Linked DNA regions of Homo sapiens: region 2 is linked to region 1. The links come from fine-mapping of genetic effects on gene expression. A gene starts in region 1. The other region holds a variant in brackets. All regions are shown on one strand. Distances are between the middles of the regions. Region 1 holds the start of MYO16 (myosin XVI). Region 2 overlaps MYO16 (myosin XVI).

The links.
Region 2: its variant is fine-mapped to the expression of MYO16 in testis (GTEx, PIP above 0.99).

What each region holds. Positions count from the first base shown.
Region 1 is chr13:108,617,110-108,634,601 of GRCh38, forward strand. It overlaps MYO16 (myosin XVI), which reads left to right and starts at 12,502. Exons shown (of 35, transcript NM_001198950.3): 1 at 12,502-12,763. The coding sequence starts at 12,736. RefSeq lists an enhancer at 1,010-1,511.
Region 2 is chr13:108,881,762-108,889,761 of GRCh38, forward strand. It overlaps MYO16 (myosin XVI), which reads left to right. Exons shown (of 35, transcript NM_001198950.3): 13 at 1,298-1,425; 14 at 6,611-6,716. Among named protein-coding and RNA genes, the nearest start is that of MYO16-AS2, 220 kb to the right of the region's middle. The variant C/T (reference allele first, on the strand shown) is at 4,905.

The DNA.
Region 1 (17,492 bases):
GCCACCGAGTGTGCCATTTTCTTCAGGTTTTTGTTTTCCTAGAGCAGTGATTCTCAGACTTAGTGTTTAGCAGAGAGCCATCTGGAGGGCCTGTGAGATCCCCAAGAGCGCTGGACCCACCCCAGAGATTTGGATGCAGCCCTGTTTGATGGGAGCACAGAATCTGCATTTCAAACAAGTTCTCTGGGGATGCTGCTGCTGGTCCAGGGGCCACGGTTAAAACCACAGGACTGCATCACTCTTTCATACGCCCTCATTCCCTCATTCCTTCTATGCATTCTGCAGATTTCAGCTATGATAGCTCATTTCAGCCAATCTTATTTGATCCCTAGCAGTTGGGCAGAGGCTTTTCTGTGTATACCTGAGTAGTTTTACTCCTCCTCACTATAGCACTGAACAACCTGTTGTTGTAAATGCCTAAATAATGTCATTGAAATGGTAAGCTCTTCACAGGTACGGGCTTTCATCTGTGCCATGGTTGTCTCTCAGGGCCTAGTGCCTGCCTGATAGTACAGTCTCCATAAACAAAATTACTAAAGGAAAATAAAGAAGAAATAAATAGAGACTAGGATCCATGTTCAGTCCATCTTGTGTTTTCTCTAATACCAGCAAACGCTGTGCATAGCAGAAGCCCTGCACACATAACAAGGGATGGTTTTACAGGGAGCCAAGGACAAGACTTACTGAGTACCCAATAGATGTACTTATTTATTCTATTGATGTTTCCTAGATATATCATACCCAGATAATCGATTGTCTTTCCCTTACACCATCCCCTTCCTTTTCCACTCTGCTTCTTCTTCCTCCACTCTCCTTTCCCTCACCAGATAGGCAGATGGCCTCACCAAACACCCAAGCACCTAGAAAGCTGGTCTTCTCTCTCACTTCCCAATCCTGCCAGTCTTCAAGCTATTGCTTCCTGAGAATTTACCCAGTCTGCTCTGTCTTCACTACCATGACTCAATTTCAAGCCCTCATGCTCTCTCCCCTGGACTATTATAGGAGCTTTTTAAATAAGTTTCCTTGCTGTCCATCTTGTCTCCCTCAAATCTGTTCTTCACAGAGCATCACGATTTAACTCCTCTGTTAAAAATCTGCTATCCACTCCCCATCTGCTGCAAGAGTGGTCTTCATTTTTCAGGTCAGGGATCCCTTTGAGTAACTACAGACTCTCTCCCAAGATTCTATGGAAGAGATGCATGTAATTCAGGACAGAAGAGCACCTGCAAAAAAGAGGAGAAAAGACTTCCCAGCAGGAGACACCTCCTGCAAGGCATTGTGCATTAAGACTGTGGTGGCAGTGGCTGTCCTAGAACATTTGCATTGCAGATGAGAAGCTGCTAGAGTTGAGCCTGTAGAGACAGACAGGAGCACCTCACAGAGGACATTGTATATGGTATGAAGGAGCCATTGCCTGGGCCAGCCACCACCTCTTCCATGCCTCCATCTTGCTTTGTCTAAGCTTACGTTTGCATTTTCCACACTGTGTTATAGTGGCTGATTTGCTGTGCTGGGAAATCACTTTAAGGGCAGTGACTGCCCCTTATTTGTATCCATATGCAAAAGTACAGTAGCCTGTCAGTCAATAGTTGTTGAATGAGTGAATGTAGAATGAACCAATGCTTCTGAGTTACCTTAGTTTTACACCCTTAGAAATCCTTTTCTCACTGTGTCTGTTGCTGCTATGTTAGGAACTCTGTCACTATTTACAACACTTAAACAATAGATTATAATTTGCATGCAGTAAAACACATATATACTACATGTACAATTCAACCAATCTTAATGTATCTCTCTATATTTATACGTGTGCAACCACCACGAGATCAAAATATGAAACATTTCCATTTGTTCTAGAAAGTTCCCTAGAGCCCTTTTCCTATCAATAGCCCATTTGCCTGATTTCTATTATCATAATTTTTTCCTGTTTTTGGATTTTATGTAAATAAACAGAGTCATAAATTTGACACTCTCAAAATATCCCCCATCAGATTCATGTAAGACTTTTATTTTGGTGATACTTCTCCACAACCATCGCACTACAACTTACCTTAATCCACTCAACTAACACTTACATATTTGGCTTTAGAGATGTATATCAATATCTTCTGTGGTCTGGAGATAATTCTTATCATATTAGCACCTTAGATGTAATTGCCAGTATTCATGATATGTTAAAAAATTATTAAATGTCTACTAAATTTGCTACAGCTTAGCTACTTCACGAGACTCTAAAATTCGGTTCCCTGCTATACTCTTAAATTTCAAATATAAACATATATACCTCTTCCCTTGATAAAATCTTACTTCCGATCTGTATCTTTTCTTGACACTTTCCTTCTCTTGACACTTTTGGTTGACTGGGTCTGTATGTTGAAATGTCTGCCTTGATAGATACTCGAGGGTGTAAAAGTAAACATCAATGTAGCAGCATCATGTCAGCATTTTGAGAGAAAGCCCACGCAGGATGTAAATTAGCAGTAATAGGATGTAGCATCAGGAGGTATCACAGCGATACATCAGTGCAGCTAACCTGGCCAAGAAGAAAGGGGAAGGGACTGATCGGGAGGCAGTTTGCCCGCTGTGACCCTTGAACACTTATTTTCTACTCATTTTACACAACCCCTTCCCTTCTCCACCTTCTCCTCTCCAGATGTCTCTCCTATGTGTGTCCTCCCCTCTCCCTCTCTCTCCCTATATACACAACACCAACATGTAGGGTTGAAGTTCATCAGGCAAGGGACGATGCGCGGTGAGGAAGGTAGAAAAAATGTGACAGACAGAAGAAAGGCCTGTGCTAGGAGTTGAAGGCAAATGGCATACTGGAAACCTAAGCCTAAACCACCTAGCAGGAGGGGTATTGCCCCATGATGAAAGGTATGGTGGACTCTGTAGCCTGAATGACTTGGTCAACAGAGTCATGCTCCTTTATGGCTGAATGATCTTGGACATCTTGCTTAGTCTTTGTGCCTCAATTTCCTCATCTGTTAAAAAAGTATTAGTACCCACTACATTGTTCTGATTCTTAAATGAATCGATGCCTATGAAGATATTAGAATAATGCTTACCACATAATAAGCACTTTTTAATTGTTTGCTATATAAGTTGAAGCCTTAAAAAATGGAGGTCATTTCCTAGAAATATTCACTTAGAAGCTTATTTATAACTTTCTTACTTTTTGAATAATAAATCTGAATATTTATTCTGGAAATGCTAAAGGGAATAACACTAACGTATTTATTTTTTGACTACCTGAGTTTTAGGGCTGCTCTGATGTTTGATGTTGAAGCCACACTGAAGAAGAGAGGAAGCAGGGATGAACCGTACTAAGAGCATGCATTCATGTTACTGTTTTCAGGCATCCCAGACTCATTCTCTTGATGCAAAGTCTGTGGGTGGAACTTCTGGATTTTGGGCTTCTAGGGATGAGAGGTTTCCAGTATTGGCAACATTAGATAAATTAAGGAAATATTTCATTGGGTCAGATCAAGTCCGCCTTTATGAGGAAACTGTGGAAAGAAGGAAGCAGAGATAGGGATGGAGATTTCAAGACAGGAAGAGGAGGACTCACCTTTTGGTCGATGATGGGATGTGCTGTCCACTTCCCACTTGTCACTGCCTCTGCTCTGTCCCCAGTTCCTCGCCCTTGGGGGCCTTGAGTGGCCTCCACTTCCCAAACACACTATCCTCTTTATTTCTCCTGCTCCAATAATTTCCTATGATATTTATGCATTTCAGATCTAAACATCCCACTCCTCTGCATTAAAAGCTTCCTTGTCTCTATATGACTCATGAGAAGGAACAGAGCCTCCCATCCCCACCCCGCAGCCTGGCCTCTACTTACCTCTCTAACTCACCCCTCAGCTGGCTGTGCCAGGTACTATCCTTTAGCCTTGCCAAACATTTCTGTTTATTTCTTGAACATGTCATGAAGATACCACACACCTCTCTTCTGCCCACCTGCTTTGCCTAATCTCTTCCTACTCATCCTCTGGTGTGTGCTAGGCACCACATCTTCAGAAACACACTGCAAACCCTCAAGCTTCGGGTGCCTGCTCCATAATGCCATGCATTTTCTAGTGTAGTCTCTGTAATTCTGTTTCCCAGTGTATAATCTTTGTAAGCTCCACAGGGTAGGGTCTAGGTCTGATTCATGACTGTTGCATGTTGAGTGCTCAACAAAGACTTCCAGGGCTGATAGAATTCTATGGTAGTCCCCCCACTTATTTGCCGTTTTGCTCTCTGCAGTTTCAGTTAACCACCGCCAACTGCAGTCTGAAATATTAAATGGAAATATCTAGAAATTTCCATTTAATATTTGTATTCTATTTCTAGAAATTCATTAATTTTAAATTGCATGCTGTTCCATGCATGGAGTAACATGATGAAGTCTCATGCCATCCAGCTTCATTTCTTTCTGGACATGAATCATCCTTTTGTCCATTGTATAAGCACTACATGCTTCCTGCTCGTTAATCATCCACGTCGTCTACTCCTGACATCCAGTCATCGACATTGTCGTGGCTCAGTGATCCTGGGCCATCTGAAGCAGATGATCCTCTCTTGGCTGCGGTGTTAGGTCAATAGTAGCCTGCTCCATACCAATGCCTACGTCATTCCCCTCACATCAGGCATCAGTAGGCATTTTATCATCTCACATCATCACAAGAAGAAGAGTGAGTACAGTACAGTAAGATATTGTGAGAGAGAGACAATGAGAGACAGCACATTCACCTAACTTTTATTATAGTATTTTGCTATAATTGTCCTGTTTTATCATTGTTGCTCTTAATCTCTAAATTAGACTGTGCCTAATTTATAAACTAAACTTTATCATAGGAATAGTATAGAAATGTATAGAAAAAAAAACAGTGTATATAGGGCTCCATATTATCTGTGGTTTCAGGCATCCACTGGGGATCTTGGAAAGTGTCCCCCACAGATTGGGAGGATACTGTATAAAGTTTACTTGTTTAGTACCTGGTTCATGGGTAAACATGGCATAATTACTGTGAAGGGGTTTCTACTAGTCATTGATACCTGCAAGACTCTAGGAAAGGCAGTGATGTCTTCAAGGCAAATCACATAATAAATATTTTCATGAATATAAAGATAGCATTAGATCAATACAACATCAGGGGTGTGTGAAATAGTCACATCGTGATGGTTGGAATTGTACTTGTTGAGCACCTAGCTTGTACAGAAGAACCCTGGGCGCTTGGCATTACAGCTGCCATTTCTTATCACAGGAATTTGAACCTCAACCAGGTGACCTGACCTTTAGGGAGTGACAGATACAGGATTCATATCCAAGGAAGTTTACTGAAATAGAAGTAAGGAGGGACAACCCACTAGAGGAGCCTTGGTCAGGGAAAGGATGTCCCAGTCTTCTACGGTTTCATTAGCCTCATGCACTGTGGCCAGAATTTATCTGTGTCTGTTGCTTTACTCTGAGAAGTCCTTCCAGTTATTTATGGGAGTGTGAAGTATGGAGAGAGAGACAGGGAGAGGAGGAAGAGAAAAGGAGGAGGGGGGAAGGCAGATGTTGGTGGGGGATGGAAAAGAGAGGGATGGTGGGGGATGGACGAGAGGAAGAGGAGGTAAGAGGAGAGGCCAAAATAGGCTAAGAGAGATTCTGATGGGAAACATGAAGTCGTGGATCATGAATCAGAGACATGGATCAGAGCACGGACCACACTCACAGAGCATCCTGGCACTGGTTTCCAAAGCCCCACTATTCAAAAAGCAATGGACGGAAAGCCTGATATCATCCTGCAAGGGCAGTGGAATTGTAACACAGGAGAGGAACCAAAGAGTTCAAGGACTCTAAGCTTTTATAAGCTGCACATATGCCCATTTGAGAGAAAGAGTGAGAGAGAGAAAAGGAAACAAATTTTCTCTTGGAGAAGAAAAGAGAAAGTCTCCAGGCTTATCACCCTGAAATATAAGCCCATGGGCCTGGGAGGTAATTCTCCAAATTGCTTCAGAGCTACACACACGACGTCCAGCTTCCAAGGTATGCTTTTATGTAATCACCATTTAACCAAGGCTGCCAATGCTCTTTCCTCTGACAGCCCAAACTGTGCAGATAGGAGAAAATATTTATGGAGAACAATATCGTAACAATGAGGGCTACTTAAACTTATCCAAAAGGCCTGAGACTTCAGTTTGGAGAAATAATTTAATGTCATTTGTGAATTTGGATATTTCAGTGTACATTCTTTTTCTAGAACACCTTAAAATATTGTTAAATTTTGGGAACCTCTCTAGTGACTATATTGTATCCATTGTCACTCAAAGAAAATTAGCAACAAGGGAATTCATTTAGAAGAAGAAAGTCAAACTTGCAGCCAGATCTCCCTATGATCCGTTTTAATGGCGCCTTCATGGGGGATATTGAAAAACAATATACACTCAGTCTACTTGTACCTACATGCTTGAATGAAGAAGGGGCTATACTCCACTTCATTTCTTTCTTCTTCTCCTGTCATGTATGGTAAGTTATGTTTACTTAAGTGTTCAATAATCCTGCCTTTAATAAAATATTCCTCAAGACATTATATGTCATGCACCAGAAAATGCTTTAGAGCAATTCTAATTCTCTGGCTCTCCCTTTGTTGATCTCTGAATGTTCACTAATGTTTTGGACTTCATAGGAAATAGGAAAAGTAGAAGGTCTGAGACTCAAATAACGAGTTACCTACCTAGGAAGAGCCTTCCCTATGATAACTAGTTAAGAAAAATGCAAAGCATTGCATTATAAATGCTGGATTGACTGGTACATGAAAAAAATGAATATAAGCTTTAGAGAAGGTCAGGAATAATTTAAGCAATAAAAAAATCAAGAACAGTTTGTAGATTAAATGGGCTTGAAGTAAATTTGAAGAATGCATGGAATTTGAATAGGTAACTTAGTGTGATTAAATTGTAAATAAGAGCATGATTCAACTAAAGAGGCATATTTTGTTTAAAAAATCCATGTATATCAATGGGAAAAGTATGAAGGAGAGGCTTCTTATTTAATTGCCTCACAATTCCTTTCATCCTTTTTGGGAAAATTAAGAATATCTTTTAGATCATCAAAAAACTTTCAGATATTGTCTTCTAAATGACAAATGTATAGAGATCTGTTCAAACATTTCAGCCTGGTGTCCCAGCTGTCTTATTTAGGCCAACAGTAATCGCTAAACTTGCTTCGTCATCAATAAATTTTTTTTTATCTGCCTATTCCTGGTAACTGGTTGCAGTATACTATTTATTCCCTCAAACTGATTGAAGAACAAGGCAAAGAATACTTAATTATTCATGTGCTCATATTCATCCATATCACACATGTGCACATAAACCTAGGTAGAGTCATACAGACATAAAACAAAACGGTCTGTTTCTTATTCACCATTAAGATATGCAAACTTTTGTCCAAGGTCAAACACCTGAAATGGAAAAGTCTTCCTAGATAGTTGTAACGCATATGCTGGAAAGATTTCAAAGTGGTTGTTCGGATTCAAGTGAAAAACCTTACAAATGCTTTACAAATGTCCTGCTTTAGATACCCAGTTTAACTGGTCCTCACTAGAATTTAAAACATTTCATTTTGATTAGGGAAAAAAATCACCAAAGGAAGTGGGTGGCCAAATGCCCTTAAGGAGCAATTAGAACATCCCATATAGCCTGAGTGTGTGTGTGTGTGTGTGTGTGTGTGTGTGTGTGTGTGTGTATCTTCATATATCCATATCAATGCACATGCATGTATTTGCTATTATATTAATCTATATTGTATTACAGAGAGTAATTTTCAGTCTTTTTGAAGCAGTTTTTAAAATTGCATTTCTTTTCTACATCAGTACTCTATGAAAGTATTTGAATAACCAGGGATATTTTCTAGCCGTTATATGACAAATTCACTTTTAGTCACTAAAGCAGGGCTCAGCTGGGTTAGCCCTCACTGCCCTCTGACATGGAGAGGGCAGTTCCTATTAACCCCTACTTCTTTCCAACTGTGCAAGTCTGTATTGTAAATTTCTTCTCATTTACTTCACAATTGCCCACATCTAACTTGAATGTCCGTTTGTTCTGGTTGGAGAAATGTGAGACTACGTGAAGCTGAAGTGAACACACAGCCCTGTGGAGTCCTGAATCCGAGAGCTAGTGGTTTCACAGGCAGGCCAAAATCAGGAACAACCTCCACAGTCACTAGACTGAGATCAGGGACTTTATGAGAGAGTCAAGGATGTTCAGTCATTCAAGGTAGGCTTGATCCTGGTCCTGAGGCACCAGGGGTTGACCAGAGGCTGATTCTATAGCAAGAGCTGAGTGTATTTATGCCTTATTTTTTGACAACTCAGATATTTTCTCCTCTGTAGGCTTCAGCCTCAAAGGACCCTAAGTTATTAGACCGGAGTTATGTTCCCAGGAGAGGTCTTGACTCCATTCACCCAGAAGCAGTCAATATTTGTGATAGAGGAAATTATAAATTTAGCTGTCAGCCATTGTGTGTGAGACACCTGTGGCTCAAGGTCTCTAAATGTGTGTAATTTACTTCATCAAAGGCTAATATTTATAAGCCCCAACCTATTCACAGGGCAGAGGCAATGATGCCCCATCACAGAGCTTAAATTTGCATAACAAAAAACTGTTGTGTGTGATTTATATCTTCATTTAGAATTTTTGTCATGACCTACTGTTAATACGTACCTTTCCCAAATTGGTGATGTTTGCAAACTTTAGTTTTAATTTCTTCATTTAATAAAGCATGTCAATGCAGGCACTATTAGATTAGGAATTATCTGTCAGCAGACTGGCATTATGAAACTACATGTTTTACATTGTCCAAATAGGTTTTAAATGAAAACATTAAGTAGTATCTCACCTGGGGCCTTTTTGGAGCTGTGTCTCATGTATCCCATTTTAAAAGATATTTACTAAGCAATTTCTAACTTTTGAATGCTTATCTCTCATTAGAATCATTGCAGTTTCTTTTTTTGTTTTTGGCTGGGAAATAATTTAGCCTTATTTGAAAAAATCTGGTGTATAATAATGCTAACATTTAAGAGAAAAAAAATCATGTGTTCATATCAGAAATAGTGTGAATAATGAGCAGCTGTATGGTGTATAAAAGAGAAAAAGGGGTTTCTTGATTATTCAAAAATGAGTTTGAAATATTATGCATTCGTATTTGGAAAGAACAATAGTTCATTGTAATAATACTGAAAAATAATAAAATAATTGTGCTTTATGCGTTTGAAAATTTTCTGGAAATGCAAAACAATACCCTCTTTCGAACGCATGGATTTAATTTTGTACTTAATGACCATATTCTGCAAAATAGATAAATTGCTAACCATATATTTAATTTAGCCTTGGTCATTTCTTGCTACTGTCATCAACTCTGATACCATATTTAAAATATAAGATTTAGCCGGGCATGGTGGCTCATGCCTGTAATCCCAGCACTTTGGGAAGCCAAGGCAGGTGGCTCACCTGAGGTCAAGCCTGACCAGCCTGACTAACATGGTGAAATCTCATGTCTACTAAAACTACAAAAATTAGCTGGGCATGGTAGTGGGTGCCTGTAATTCCAGCTACTTGGGAGGCTGAAACAGGAGAATTGCTTGAAACCGGGAGGCAGAGGGTTGCAGTGAGCCAAGATCGCGCCATTGCACTGCAGCCTGGGTGACAGAGAGAAACTCCATCTCAAAAGAGAAAATAAAAGAAAAGAAAAATATATATGTGTGTGTATATATATATATGTATATTATACATGTATATATGTATATTTTATGTATATATGTATATTATATATATTATATATAGCTATATATAATATATATAAAAATATATATTGTATATAATATATATATTATATATTATATATATATATGATTGAAGGAGTCCTGAAATTATTGTTCTGACCACCCAACAGTGAGTTGAGTTTCTCAGGGATGGATATAGAGGAGGAAATTTTAATCAACTTCAAGTTACCATTTTTAAAAAATTTTATGAAGGAAGTAAAGTTAATGGAACCAAAATTATTTTCCTCAGTATTAATGCCTGCATTAGAAATTAATTTTTGTTTTGTAGTGATGAAATATGTAAATAGGTTTAAACATAGTTCTACCAATGTTTAGAGCATGAGTATGTGGTTTCAAAGACAAAAAGATAAAAGGGCTTCTTAATCTGGGGAAATTATATGTAGATACAGTTTATACATAGAAAGCACATTCTAAGTAGTTTAAGAAATCTGTGAATACATTTCTCAGTGTATCCTCCTTCAACTCCTCAAAGTGGATTAGATGTTGGCTCTTGTTGTTTTAGAGGTCTACATTTGTAGTCTTACAGTTTCTAGCACACAACACTGTGCTATCTTGATTGTCTCTATTTCATCTGACGATAAGCACTTTGAGGTCAGGGAGTCAAGTTTCTCTTATAGCACAAAGAGTTGCCAAATGTTTATGGAATACATGAGTCGATGAAAAATAAACACATTTGATAATGAGCCCCTGGAGATGAGATGTTAATTCTCACGGGGTACCTTGGTTAAAGTTCTTATAAGAAATGCCTTAAGTTATTGAAAAAAGTAGGGCTCAAATCAATTATATTTTTAATAACATATTTTCTTTGTCAAGTGCACAACATGCCCCTCTGAGTGTTATGCTTTTTTTCAGTTTAAAGAGTGAATGGTATCATTAAACTCAATTGTCTTAAGATGTTTGCTGAGTTTGTATACATGCAGAGGCATGCAATTTGCAGAAAATTAAGACATTCAGACATTTAAGGAAGGTATATAGGCAACATACTATTTATCCGGCATTGTATTAAGAGAAGGGGGTAGGGACATCTACATGGATACAACCTTACCCGAAGATACATTAGATAACATTCACATAAATTCACAGTTATTTTATGCACATGTAAAGATTTGTATTGATTTAAAGAGGAGAGAGCTTTACTTCCCGTGTTGGAAACAGATATAGTTGTGTCTTACAGTTTTATTGAAACATTACAAAACATCCAAGAAACCCTTTAAAAATACATTATAGATTCCTGGTATATAAAGGCTCTGTTTTAGACATATTTTATTCCTGAAAAGCACCCAAAATGGTGACTTTTGTGACAGTGACTCTCAATAATTAATTGTGGAATCAACGAATAAATGAGGAATCAGCATTCCTGATGAAGGCTGCAAATCCTCATTCTAATTTTTGGAAAAGCCAAGTTAAAGCGTCCATAATCATCATTTGGTACATACATAAGTTTTTTTCCTTGTTAATGTTAATGACAACTTTTCAATGAACACCAACAACAGAAACCAGAAATTTTATGTGCATTATTTCTAACCTTCAGAATAAAGATTAGGAATTATATTTCACATGCATAGATGAGGAAACTGAGGCTTTAGCAGGTTAAATAATGTGTTTACATTGATACTCTGGTAAGTGGTAGAAGCTGGATTTGACATCAGGCTGTTCTGTGCGAAATCTTCAACTTATTATTTTACATCACGCTACTAAAATGTGTTAGAATATTATTCAGTGAAAATGTAATAGTCATGACCCCTTGTTGTATAGATTTGAATTTCATAATCTTCTAGTTTAATAAAAGCACTGCTCTTTGAGTTTTGTTCAGTAAGGAATACAAAATTATGTTACTGCCACAGAAGGATGGGTGCACTTAACATATTGTTCATGTTTACCTTTCCTATAACCTCAAACCTGAAACATAAATTCTAGACTATGTCAACTTGTCTTTGGAGAAGATCATCATAAAAATGTATCAATTTGCAAAAAAAATGTATCACTTTGAATTTGTAAACAACTTAAAATATAACCTTTTGGTTTGCTACCATGGCTATTTCATTATGAGTATGATATTCACTTTTATAACAATAAACCCTAGCAGACCATATATTTCTTTCTGATTCCAATTCAGTCAGATTTACTTCATCCAGTTGGGTTGTACAGTTAAATTCATTGCAGTCTGCAGAGGTAGGAGAATCCTAAATTTTAAAGCTATGCAAACCAAAAGCTTTTTGTGGATAATTTAAGTTTTACATTCTGCTCAGAAAAGCAGAAAGATGTGTTTTGAAATATAATGCAAGTTTTTCATTACTAAGGACAGATCAAAGATCTCTGATTCTAAGAGGTGGCTATTTTAAGCTCCTGCTATCAATTTCCTATTCACACACAGCAACTGGTGGCAACTAAAAATAATCCGCTTTACTACCAGCTAAGAATCTGGTCATATGTGGCTGATGGACAGTGTGCACGAAGAAGATTTAGGATCCTTCTATCCGTGGCTTCTCTCCAGCCCACTCATCAGCTTAGTTTGCTGCCATTTGAAAGCTATTGAAAAGCCATTAACAGGCAGGACCGGGAGAGCCGCACTGCAGCACACCTCCGTGCAGCAGAATGTGGCTGCATGTGAACACCAATTAGAGCTGACTATTCCCGGGATTGTGGTACTCGGGGCTGTGTCAATCAAGGGTGCTACAATAGCACGTGCACCAGTGGTGCCTCAAGACCCACCGGGGAGAGGCTTATCTTAACTCCAGCTGCCGAATGAGAATGAGTTTGAAGCTTTTTGCAGGATCATGGAACAGAGCCTCCATGCAATAGTGCATCCTGAGGTAAACTGTTACCTGAGTAAGGGCTTTAAGTAATGCATTTCCTGGGAACGACAGTTGTGACAGAAGAGAATGCTGGAACCCGTAGCAAGATTCCTGTCTGAGATGGAAAGATGTCTCACTATCATTTTATCAAGTGCTGTAAGTAAGCTTGATATCTTGCTCATGTGGTTATTTGTCTTGTTGAAGTATTATTTTGTGCAGATGCCAAAATTAAGGCAGTTCTCCTGGTATACCACATTCAGATGAGTGACATAGACTGGTGACTTAGAAGAATATTTTACAGGCTGGATATATTTCCTTTTAATTTTAGATTGTGAAATAATTCCAGTGTGATCCAAATGCTAATAGCACAGAGATCTTTAAAACTTCAGCTTTTTAAAAAAAATGATTCATAGACACAGCAACCAGAAAAAAAAAAAAACACCAGAAACACATGGAAAGAAATTACAAAAGCATATTTTTGCTCATTGGCACATGTTAATAAAGTACATAAAAACTAAGTTTATTAATATATGGCTGAGGTCATTTAGCTAGTATTTTAGTCTCAAGTTTTACTGCTTAAGCCTCTATTCAATGCTTTTTGTAAGTGTGATCTTTAGGGTTATCCTTGACTGTAAACTTTTGTCCTTGTATCATTCACCTTGCGGTGCTTAGGGACTCCAGGGACTCTGTACCAAATGCTCTCCACTGATGTTCATATGGTGAAATTTAGTTTGTCACCAGGTTCTCTTTTGGGCTTATCAAGGGTTTCTTTAGCGTCTGAAATTTTGGCAGAATTTTCTGAGCTAGAGAATACTTCCATCTAAACCAATTCTGGATGGTAATAATGAAGAGGAAGACATATTTATCCAAAAATGGCTTGCTGGATATACATTTTTGTCCCCTGCAGCACTTCTGAAAACTTCTGTACATATATATCATGATCTTAAAGTGACAGATGACATTTGCAGAAAATGGTTTTCTTTTAAGCTTAAGGTTTTGCTGCCAAAGGACATCACAATGTTAAATTGAAGCAGCATATTAAGGGAACACATGTGTTGAATGAATCTTGAGCTTTGCACTAAAGGAGACTAAAAAAATAATGATGATTGAGAAGGTGAAAATATTTACCTTTCTCTTATTTTTGGTAGAGAATGTATACAGGAATTAAAACTATGATTAATGGAAATAAAAATGCCTTACTCTTAAGCATTGCCAAGAATGTCATGCTTTCATGTTGCAGAACAATTTCAATTCCCAAAAGGATTCACTGGTCATCTCGTAAGTTTGCAGATTAGCTCTTTAACTAATAAGAATTAGAGGCATGCAGCGTATTTAAGAATTTTGAGAATAGTCTTCTGCTTTAATCTGTTAACTCTTGGGGTTATTTTCTTGGAGAAATAGACACAGGGCAATACTCTGACTGGTTTTTGTATTGCCTCTCGTGTTTTACTGCACTAGCAGAATGTCATTATTTTCCTTGCTGTGCCTCTGCAGAGGAAAAACTCTGCATCTTTCCTACAAGGAACCTGGATGCTCATTAGACACATTGAACACACCTGGTGGAGGGCAGCCATGGAGCATGGGTGGAAGCACAAAGGGACAGTGACATGGACGTGAGAGATTCAGGGAGCAGTTGGTCACCAAACACAATATGAGTCTGCCCTTTCCTGCCTTTTGTTCTGTTTTAGTTGAATTATTTGATTGTAGAATTTCGGAAAATTGTAGACATTTCAGAAAATTGGTGATGTCAATTGGAGCCTGTGAGATATTTCTTTTAGCATGCTAGTATAAGAGATGAAATCTAAAATTAATGAATTTAAACATTCCTGATGCATTTCTGAAAGTAATTAGCAACTACTTACTAAAGATCTGACTGCTTTCTAAGCTTTGAGTGTGACAGTCTATAAAATGGAAAGGAAGCATGAATATTATGAAATGCTAACTTTACTGGAGAAATGGTGCGATGTGTTAAGGAGTTCAGAAATTATACTGCATTCTGTGCTGAACTAGTGAAGGGTGTTTTATGAAAAAAATGCATCTTGAGCTATATCTTGGAAGGATGAACAAAATATAGAAGAAGGCCGGGCGTGATGGCTCACGCTTGTAATCCCAGAACATTGGGAGGCCAAAGCAGGCGGATCACCTGAGGTCAGGAGTTTAAGACCAGTCTGGCCAACATAGTGAAACCCTGTCTCTACTAAAAATACAAAATTTTGCTGGGTGTGGTGGTGGGAGCCTGTAATCCCAGCTACTTGGGAGGTTGAGGCAGGAGAATTGCTTGAACCCGGGAGGCGGAGCTTGCGGTGAGCTGAGATCGCGCCATTGCACTCCAGCCTGGGTGACAAGAGCAAAACCCCAACTCAAAAAAAAAAAAAAAAAAAAAGAGTGAATGCCCTCATGGTATCCTAAGGGTTTATTGATAAGGATCATAATTCATGGTTTAATGGTTGTTCCTGATGCGTAAGATTTTCCCAAATTGTTGTCTCCCATATTGGGCTGATCTGCTGGCGAGGTTCATCGGCCTTCGTCACACTCCATTCCTTCTTCGCCTGTCCTGCATTTCTACCACATATCTGTCTTTCATTCTGAGCCAGATTTATCACCATAGCACGTTCACTTTCAAGCCAGACAGCAATGCAGGAAGTGGATGAATTCCAGGGCAGGAGCAGGACCTTCTGAAATGTGCAACATTAGCATCCCATGTGCTCCTAGTGAATCACAGGAAGCCTTCAGGTGGGATGCTGGGTGACCAATAGCTAATGCTCGCAAGGAACTGTTAGTCACCTGGGAAAATACTCATCATCTAAGGTGAAAAAATTATACGCTTCAAGGTCGAAACTTAATCTAACAGTTGTTATCTCCAGTTTATGATAATATCTGTTACTTTGTAAAACATTTTTACTTTATTTTAGAGAAGGGTTAAAAACTAGAGTGTAAAAATTTACTGTGGAAGCAGGATATAGCAGGAAAGTGTAGGAACACCACAGCAAAAAGTGTGGCCATTTCATGTATCTTGGTAGCTGAGAAGTAGCTTTAGACAGATCTGCAGTGAGAGCCAGTCTCAGAGCCCCATGCCTGTTGAGAGGTAACACATGAACATGACCAGGCCCCAGCTGAGGCGCAAGCAGAAATGAGAAATGGAACTCAAGGGAGTCATGGGCTCACAGAACTTTAAGGCCATGTGAGACTTGAAACTACTTTTGTTTTAATGAACTGAAGCGGAGGCTTGAGGTCTACCTGTGGAGTTCCCTTCACGTGCCTCTGGGGGTGAAGCATTGCAATAACTACACCTGACCTATTTCTCTCCTGGTTCAGCTCTTCTCTAAGCATACGGGTTTGGGGCAGCATTGTTTGCAGCAGGAGGAAGGTTAAAGTTATTTAAAATGAATATTCTCCAGAGCTGAGAATTCATTTACAACACCTAAGAACGAATTGTATCAGAAAATCTGTTACTTTATATGTTGTATTAGTCAGGGCTTTCTTGAGGGGCAGAACTAATAAGATAGATGTATATATAAAGGGGAGTTTATTAAGGAGAATTAACTCACACAATCACAAGGTGAGGTCCCACAATAGGCCATCTGCAAGCTAAGGAGCAAGGAAGCCAGTCAGAGTCCCAAAATATCAAAAGTAGGAAAGCTGACAGTGCAGCCTTTAGTCTGTGGTCAAAGGTCCAAGAGTCCAAAAGCGGAAGAACTTGGAGTCTGATGTTCAAGGGCAGGAAGCATCCAGCATGAGAGAAAGATGTAGGCTGGAAGACTCAGCCAGCCTGGTTCTTCCATGTTCCTCTGCCTGCTTTTATCCTAGCTGCACTGGCAGCTGATCAGATGGTGTCCATCCAGATCGAGGGTGGGTCTGCCTCTCCCAGTCCACTGACTTGAATGTTAATCTCCTTTGACATCACCCTTGCAGACACACCCAGGAACAATACTTTGCATCCTTCAATCCAACCAAGTTGACACTGAGTATTAATGATCACACATATTAAACATGTTTTATGATACCAAGGTTAAAACCCATTTTTTTCCTCAAGCCACTCATGCTGATGAACACCACCTCCAGTAAAATGCTTTCCTCACTTTTCTAGCTATCGCACACACTGTTCGCTCATTCAAGAACTTTCACTGCAGTGTTTCTGCAATGCACTAACACACCCAGAAGCTGCTCCCTCCATGTCCTCACTCTCCCATATCCTGCTCTCCGCCTGGTCCAGCGCCCATAGTCCATTGCTGAAGCCACTTCACTCCTTGCCCTCACCTCCCTCTGTTCCACTCGAGTGACGAATACCTACCCAAGGTGGAACCCCCCTTTCCAGCATGTCTGTCCTTGCCCCAGAGGAGCTGGATGACCCTTGAAGGAGGACATCAGAGCAAAAGCAGACTGATTTCATTTAACATCATGATCAAACATCTCACCCAGGCAGGCAGCACTCTCCTGTACCCTCGTCTTGTTTCTACGGTAGGCACGACTGCTCATGCCTAGAGACCCCTTCTTCTAACTCCAATCTCCCAGGCTGAGGAGTTACAAACCTACCCTCCCACCATTAAATCTGCAGAGTGTCTGCGCATGTATTCCTCTTTGCCCACTTCTCACCTGCAGTCCTGAATTTCCTCCTGTGTGTCCAAGGCCAGTGCGCTTGCAATTCTGTCTCCTTCTGCCTCCTGCAAGCTTGCATTTCCCTTCAGCTCTCCCCTTTCTCTCCTGCATCAGCTTCCAACAGAGTGAATATGTGGCCAATCCATCCATCTTCCAATTAAGCAAAAGTCCCCCCTTGTTCTCTCTTCCCTCGGGCCACCACCCCATTTCCTTGTTTGCAGGTCATACCTTGAAACGATTGCCCATGCCCGTGGCCTTCGACCCTCACCTCCTTGTCTCCTCTTCCATG
Region 2 (8,000 bases), 260 kb after region 1:
AATGAACAAAGCCTCCAAGAAATATGGGACTATGTGAAAAGACCAAATCTATGTCTGACTGGTGTACCTGAAAGTGACGAGGAGAATGGAACCAAGTTGGAAAACACTGTTCAGGATATTATCCAGGAGAACTTCCCCAACATAGCGAGTCAGGCCAACATTCAAATTCTGGAAATACAAAGAATGCCACAAAGATACTCCTTGAGAAGAGCAACTCCAAGACACATAATTGTCAGATTCACCAAAGTTGAAATGAAGGAAAAACTGTAAAGGGCAGCCAGAGAGAAAGGTCAGTTTGCCCACAAAGAGAAGCCCATCAGACTAATAGCAGATCCCTGAGCATCAAGCATTTTAAAATACTTTTCTGGCATGTGGTCCCATCAACCTTAAATATGTTTACTGTGTATTTAAACAAAGGTATTCTCCTGTGTAACCTCCCTACAGTCATCAAAATGGGAAAATTATTACTGATGCACTGGTGTCACTGAATCAAGAGACCTCGTTCAGGATTTCCCATTGTCTCAGTAATGCCCATAGAGCTAGAGATTCAGGCCAGCGCTGCACGTTGCATTTTGAACCACCATGCCCTTGACTCTCCTTCAGTATGGACCAGTTCTGCAGTCTTCTTTTGACTTTTCTGACCTTGACATCTTTGAAGATACAGGCCAGTTATTTTGTACAATAAAAATAACTTTGATTTCTTCACAACTAAGAAGTCTTCCTACTCTTGAGTTTTTATTCTAAAGTAATAAAATTTACTAGAAATTTAAAAGGACTAAAACTACTGGAAATGAATCATTATGGCAATAATTATAAATCACCGTTTCTCTAAAATTAATTAATTTTTGTTTTTCTGAGAAATTTGTAAACTTATATGCATTTCAGCTGCAACTGCCTCTCACATTCAAGTTTAAAACCTTGGCTATCTTATGGTATTGAAATTAAATACTGCTGAGAGAAATTGTATTTGTTGTAAATTACCACAGTTTCAGCTTACTGCACAGATATCTATTAAAGAACATATTTTGTGAGTTGCTCTTCTTAAAGACAGCAGAATAATTAAAGCCTGTGGACCAAGTAATGAAGGATAAAGTATAAGCCTCCATTTTGTCATTATGCATGCTGAAAATGTGCTGAGAAGGGTGTAATTTTACAAATGTTTTTACATACCAATGAGATTCAGAATTAGGGATTCATTCACTTCTGTATCTTGGACAGAAGTCACTCTCATTATGGGATGAGGAATACTGGCGCCTTTTCACTGAGGTTTTCCCCTTGCTGCTGCCCTGTTTTCCAGGTGTCCCAGCTGTATTTCAGCTCCTCAGGGAAGCTGTGTTCCTCGCTGCCTCCTCACCTCTTCTCCTGTGTGGAGAGAGCCTTTCACCAGCTCTTCCGGGAACAGCGGCCTCAGTGTTTCATCCTCAGGTGAGTCCTCCTCAACCTTGTCTGCCAGGCTCAGGTTTGCCACGGGGCTTGGCAGTAAAGATGTACTCATTTCCTATGGTTTACCTTTATTTACTTTCTCAGCACCTTGAGGTCCAGTATATCTTTGCAATAAGTACATTTGACTCGTTACAAAGGAGAAACATCTTGGCTGTTAGGAGTAGCCCCAAGTGTAGCTGGATCAATATTAATAAACTTAACCTGAAACTCATTTCCTTTTGAAGATTTAAAGCTTAGATAAAAAGTTTTTGCTTTTGAACCTAAGAAAACATGGAGAAAGAAAAACTACCAATATTACGGAACCTAAGCCACTGTTCTTCAAAATCCAGGGCTGCCCCAAATATCATTTTATTTCTTTCCAAAGGTATGTTTTCTCAGCCTGTTTCTTGTTATTTACCTTTGCTCACAATTCACTGTACTCTACTTCCTAAACTTTTTTTTTTTTTTTGAGACAGGGTCTTGCTCTGTCACCCAGGCTGGAATTTAGTGGCATGATCACCAGTCACTGCAGCCAAGGCTCAAGTGATCCTCCCACCTCAGCCTCCCAAGTAGCTGGGACTACAGGCACATGCCACCACACTTGGCTAATTTTTTAATTTTTGTAGAGATGAGATCTCACTATATTGCCCAGGCTGGTCTCAAACTCCTGGGCTCAAGCGATCCTCTTGTCACAGCCTCTCAAAGTGCTGGGATTACAGACATGGGCCACTGCATTTGGCCCAGAATATTTTTTGAATTTGAAATGTAATGCTAGATTTAACTCACCAATTAATAGAAAATTAAAGAAACATTTAAATGTTAAAATCTGCATCAGAGACCTATATTTTATATTCAGCCAAACCTCTACAAGGGAGGGAAAGCTCTATAAATACTCACTCACGGTAGCGCCTTAGTTGTTGTCAGTAGTGCTGGTTGGAACTCAACGGATAAGTACAGTAGCACACAACTCGAGTCAAAGTGAAATGAAAATGGTATAAAGTTAGAACCTGGATAGAATTCAAAAGGCTTATTTAAATATTAAAATGAGAGCTTATATGTTTATATGCATTTCATCAAAAATTCTATGGAGGGTGGAGGGACAGACTGATGGGCGCACACTTTAGTTTTCTAGTTTTCAAAGCAGCATGCTAGCGGTTGTTTTCGTGCTGGGTTCAGATGCATCCCAAGGATGAGGAAGGTGCTGAGGCAGGGGCTTCGACACATTCTAAACTCTAGGATAAGAAAGGCACTGAGGCATGGGATTCCACCCATTCTAGACTCAAAAATGAGAAAGGCGCTGAGGCAGGGAATTCCACCCATTGTAGACTCAAGGATGAGAAAAGCACTGAGGCAGGGGCTTCTGCCCATTCTAGGCTCAAGGATGAGAAAGACGCCGAGACAGGGGCTCTCACCCATTCTAGACACAAGGATGAGAAGGGCGTCAAGGTGGGGGCTCCAACCCATTCTAGACACAAGGATGAGAAAGGCACCGAGGCAGGGGCTTCCACCCATTCTAAACTCAATGATGAGAAAGGCTCTGAGACACGGGCTCTCACCCATTCTAGACACAAGGATGAGAAAGGCACTGAGGCGGGGGCTCCAACCCATTCTAAACTCAAGGATGAGAAAGGCGCTGAGACAGGGGCTCTCACCCATTCTAGACATGAGGATGAGAAAGGCTCTGAGACAGGGGCTCTCATCCATTCTAGACACAAGGATGAGAAAGGCACTGAGACAGGGGCTCTCACCCATTCTAGACACGAGGGTGATAAAGATGCTGAGACAGGGGCTCTCATCCATTCTAAACTCAAAGGAAGAGAAAGACGCTGAGACGGGCTCTCACCAATTCTAGACACGAGGATGAGAAAGGCACTGAGGTGGGGGCTCCAACCCATTCTAGACTCAAGGATGAGAAAGGCACCAAGGCAGGGGCTTCCACCCATTCTTTCTTTTGATACGGAGTTTCGTTCTTGTTGCCCAGGCTGGAGTGCAATGGCACAATCTCAGCTCACCGCTACCTCTGCCTCCTGGGTTCAAGTGATTCTCCTGCTTCAGCCTCCTGAGTAGCTGGAATTACAGGCATGTGCCACCACGCCCGGCTAATTTTGTATTTTTAGTAGAGTCGGGGGTGTCACCACGTTGGTCAGGCTGGTCTCGAACTCCTGAGCTCAGGTGATCCACCTGCCTCGGCCTGCCAAAGTGCTGGGATTACAGGTGTGAGCTACTGTACCTGGCCACTCATTCTGGACTCAAGGATGAGAAAGGCGCAGAGATGGGGGCTTCCACCCGTTCTAGACTCAGGCAACCCTATTTTTATCTGCTTTGTCTGTCCAGTTTCCTGGTCTTCCTTTGATAAATAGGGAAAACTTTTTAAAAGTTGCTTAGAAAAAACACTGTCAATTGGTGAGACAGGGAGAGTTTAACACTGTTGACAATAACAACTAATGTTTATTGAGAATTTACTGGCTGCCAGACCCTTGACTAGATTATTTCTATGTATTATTTATTTCTTTAGAATTTACATAACTTTTGAGTGCTCCCACTTAATTCTAGGATGATCATTGCAGCTGTTATAGGTCAGTTTTTGAAAGCGTGGGTCCTGAGCAAGGCTCTAAGGGGAGAAAAGGAGGAGCAGCAGGCCCATGCGCTTTGGGAGTCCGCCCGGGAGATGGCACACAGCGGCCAGCAAGTTTTCTTATGAAGAACCCCGTTTATCTTAGTTTAACCCAACAGTTTTGACAGGTATTTGCTCATGGAACTTTTTATCCAGTATATATTCTGCAGAACTAGTTTTGCTTTGGGTCTTTTTTTTTTTGATATGGAGTCTTGAGTCTCGCTCTGTCGCCCAGGCTGGAGTGCAGTGGCGCGATCTGGGCTCACTGCAAGCTCCGCCTCCCGGGTTGACGTCATTCTCCTGCCTCAGCCTCCCGAATAGCTGGGACTACAGGCGCCCGCCATCACGCCCGGCTAATTTTTTGTATTTTTAGTAGAGACGAGGTTTCACCGTGTTAGCCAGGATGGTCTCGATCTCCTGACCTTGTGATCCGCCCACCACAGCCTCTCAAAGTGCTGGGATTACAGGCGTGAGCCACCGCGCCCGGCCCTCCTTTGGGTCATTTTTTAAAGTTAATGATTCCCTGTACCAACCCCTTATTTTGAAAAAATACCTCTTCATTCAAGTTTCAAGAAGGTGTTGATGCAGGATTTTGCTCCTTAGCTCGGCTACGTCCAGGTTCTTGCCTCACGACCTGGAAAAATGAGGCGTGCGGACACGAGAGAGTAAGTGGAGTAGAATTTATTATGCGAAAGGGAAGCTCTCAGCAGAGAGGGGTCCTGAAGCAGGGTGCCTGGTGCCCCCTTCTCAGTTGAATACCACCAGAGCTTAGGGCGCAAACTGCTGGCGGCTCCACCCCCCGTCCTTCCAGTGCGCATGCTGAGGCCGAGCTGCTCCATATTGATTGATTTCCCTTGCTGCACGTGTG[C/T]TAAGGAACGGACTCTTCCACCGCAGGCTTGTTTAGGCAAAGCCCCCTGTGCAAGTTCCCTTATCGGCACAAAACATCTGACGTAAGCACTCGTGGGGCGGGTCGGAGCTTCTCGGGGGACCCTTCCCTGACTGTCTGCCTGAAGCAAGCTGGAGAACTCCTTTCGGTATCGCTAGTCCTGATATACAGAATGGAAGAGCAAATCTCTGGTTACTAGGACTTACTGTTTTAGTGATTCTCTTTCTTCTTTCAAAATTGTGTGTGCTTTCATACAGCTTTGCCACATCCTTGATTGTGTGGGCTAAGATACATGCTTTCTCCATTTTTACGAATATGATAAAATTAGCCATTTGAAATTCAACTTAATAAGTTGTTAACGGATCATTATTGAGTGTCAGTTGTGTCCCAGAACGAGCACTTACAAAGGGTAATTTAAGATTTAGCAATCAAAACGCAAGTAGTCCTGGAATGGATGTCCCAAAACTCAGTACCAGACCAGAAAAAATTTCATTTTGTTTTCTAATATTAACTTAATACCTCATTTGTTGATACTCTTAGGCCCCAGTAGTTCAAAAGTCTGCACAAGTGAGTGGAAGCATCCATTAACGACTCGACACTTTAAACAAATAATTAAATTTCAACTTACTTCTTTTCTGGCAAACACTGTTAATTAACTTTGTTAAAATAGATGTTTCCAGGCAGAAAACCAAGGAAGCTCTCCTAAAAGGGCTTTAAAAAGTTTTTCTGGTTACCAAATAAGTAAAGGCTGTTTTTATGAATTTTTCATCTGGATGAAGTAATAACTTTATTGTAGATCACATCACTTTGAAATAATAATTATTTTGTGGGAATTTTATGTCAATCCTATATCATATAGTGTCAGGAATATAATATTTACCATTTTTAAAAATTGGGTGAGTTAATGAAGTATGCCTGGGATGTATTAAAAGTGATGCCCTTATAAATAAAAGTTCAGTGATCTTTCCTAGATTAAAGAAAAATGCAAACTAGAGAACATCAGAACTGAAAGCAAGCGGAAAAGGAAACCTAAGCAGGTCAGGTTTAGTAGGATCTGCGGAATGACAGATCCACATCTGAAGACCTTACTGCCTTAGTTTTTGTAGCTAGGCACTTTATGTTCATTTCAAAGAACAGAGAAGGAATGCTCAGAAAGATGTCACAGCTTTTCCACAGAAGAGGTAACGTCTCTCCTGTAAGGCCCATGAAGCATGAACAGTTTTCCCAAGGCCATGTGTGAGCCTGCATGTCTCAACACAGCATGCTGTCTCGGGATCGCCTCACTTTATGTTGACTTGCTAAGCTGAGTCAAGTTGGTTATGTCTTCTTCTCAGCCTGACACCTTTCTGGCATAATTCACCTACACTAGGTGGTTCTACCCTGTGAGATACTGAATGGCAGAACTTGTGTCATATTCATTTGTAATGCCAGCATCTGAAACACCATCAGGGACATGACACAGTCAACATATACTGGGTATTTCAGACAAATGAATCAAATTGAAGTGTGAACGGAGACCACAAACTCATTGCAAGTAGATGTGCCATTCCCTCCTCATTTCTGTGTCTGAGAAATATCTCCAGTTAATTTTTTTACTTGTTCCTTCAAAGTAGTTTCAAAGGAACAAAGGAACAAGCTTTGAAGCAAAGTTCCTTCAAACTTATGTTTTTCCTCTCTGTTTTCCTTAGTGGAGAAAGGGGATCAGGAAAGTCTGAAGCCAGCAAACAAATCATAAGACACCTCACCTGCAGGGCTGGCGCCAGCAGGGCCACACTGGATTCCAGATTCAAACATGTAAGTTTTTTGTTTGGGTTGGCAAATATGTGAATGAAGATGTTCAGCCAGTTGTCATTTACAAATAGGGGAGGGGACATCATAATAGATACAAGGGGGTTCAAAATTTGTGGAAATAAAGAATAAAAAATTATTGAGCTTGGGTTCAAATAAATACTGTTCGAGTGAACATTTATTTATTTTACATATTTAAAATATTTTGTACATACTTTCTTTTTGTATTTGCTCCGAATAGTTGGATCTAAAACACGTAATATAGGTAGATGTTGTTGTTCACAAAGAAAGTGCACTTTGAGGCTGAGCGCAGGGGCTCACGACTATAATCCCAGCACTCTGGGAGGCCGAGGCATGTGAATCACCTGAGGTCAGGAGTTCGAGATCGGCCTGGCCAACATTGTGAAACCTCGTCTCTACTAAAAATACAAAAATTAGCCAGGAGTGGTGGCTGGTGCCTGTAATCCCAGCTACTCAGGAGGCTGAGGCAGGAGAATTGCTTGAAGCCGGGAGGCAGAGGTTGCGGTGAGCTGAGATCATGCTGTTGCATTCCAGCTGGACAAGAGCAAAACTCTGTCTCAAAAAAAAAAAGAAAAGAAAAAGAAAGTGCACTTTGGTGTGTTAGGACATTTTGGGGAGCTGGCCAGAAAAGAAATTATTGTGAGGGATCACTGGGGCCTGATAATAAATCTTTGGTGTATCTGAAAGAATTGGCAATAGTTATCCTTAAAGACTTCGATGGGCAGGCCATGCACCTTTGGGGCCAAAACAGATTTTAAACTATTTGGAAACATTTGCAGTGTTAACTGTCCCGCTAATTCATCATTCTAAAATATGACCGTGATTCAAGGAGGAAGCAAAAAGACCTGTTAGCAGCTAAGATAAAGCTAAAAACATCCCACATAATCAAACTCAGAAATTTTACTCAAGGAGGCCACCACAGGTGCTTATCCATAGACTGATTCTGTTGTTTATACATAGTTCTAGCAAGTTTTGTTAAAAGGTTTGTTCAGACCATAGCAGATCAGAAGAAGACATTGAAAGGCCACTGGAAGGAATGGCTAACAGTGGGGGGAACAGACAGGACAGGAACCAATAACCAATCCAAAAGAATGGAAATCAACAGTCTGCTCTCTAGGGGCCTCTACCTAGAGATGGAACCCTCTCCATTTCTATATTTCTTTTGGAAATCACTCCAGATGCCTGGAAGTTCATGATGATTTTCCTAAGGTTGAAATAAAATATTATTTTAGAGGATACTCCACCCTTGCTTATGCTGATGATCATGAC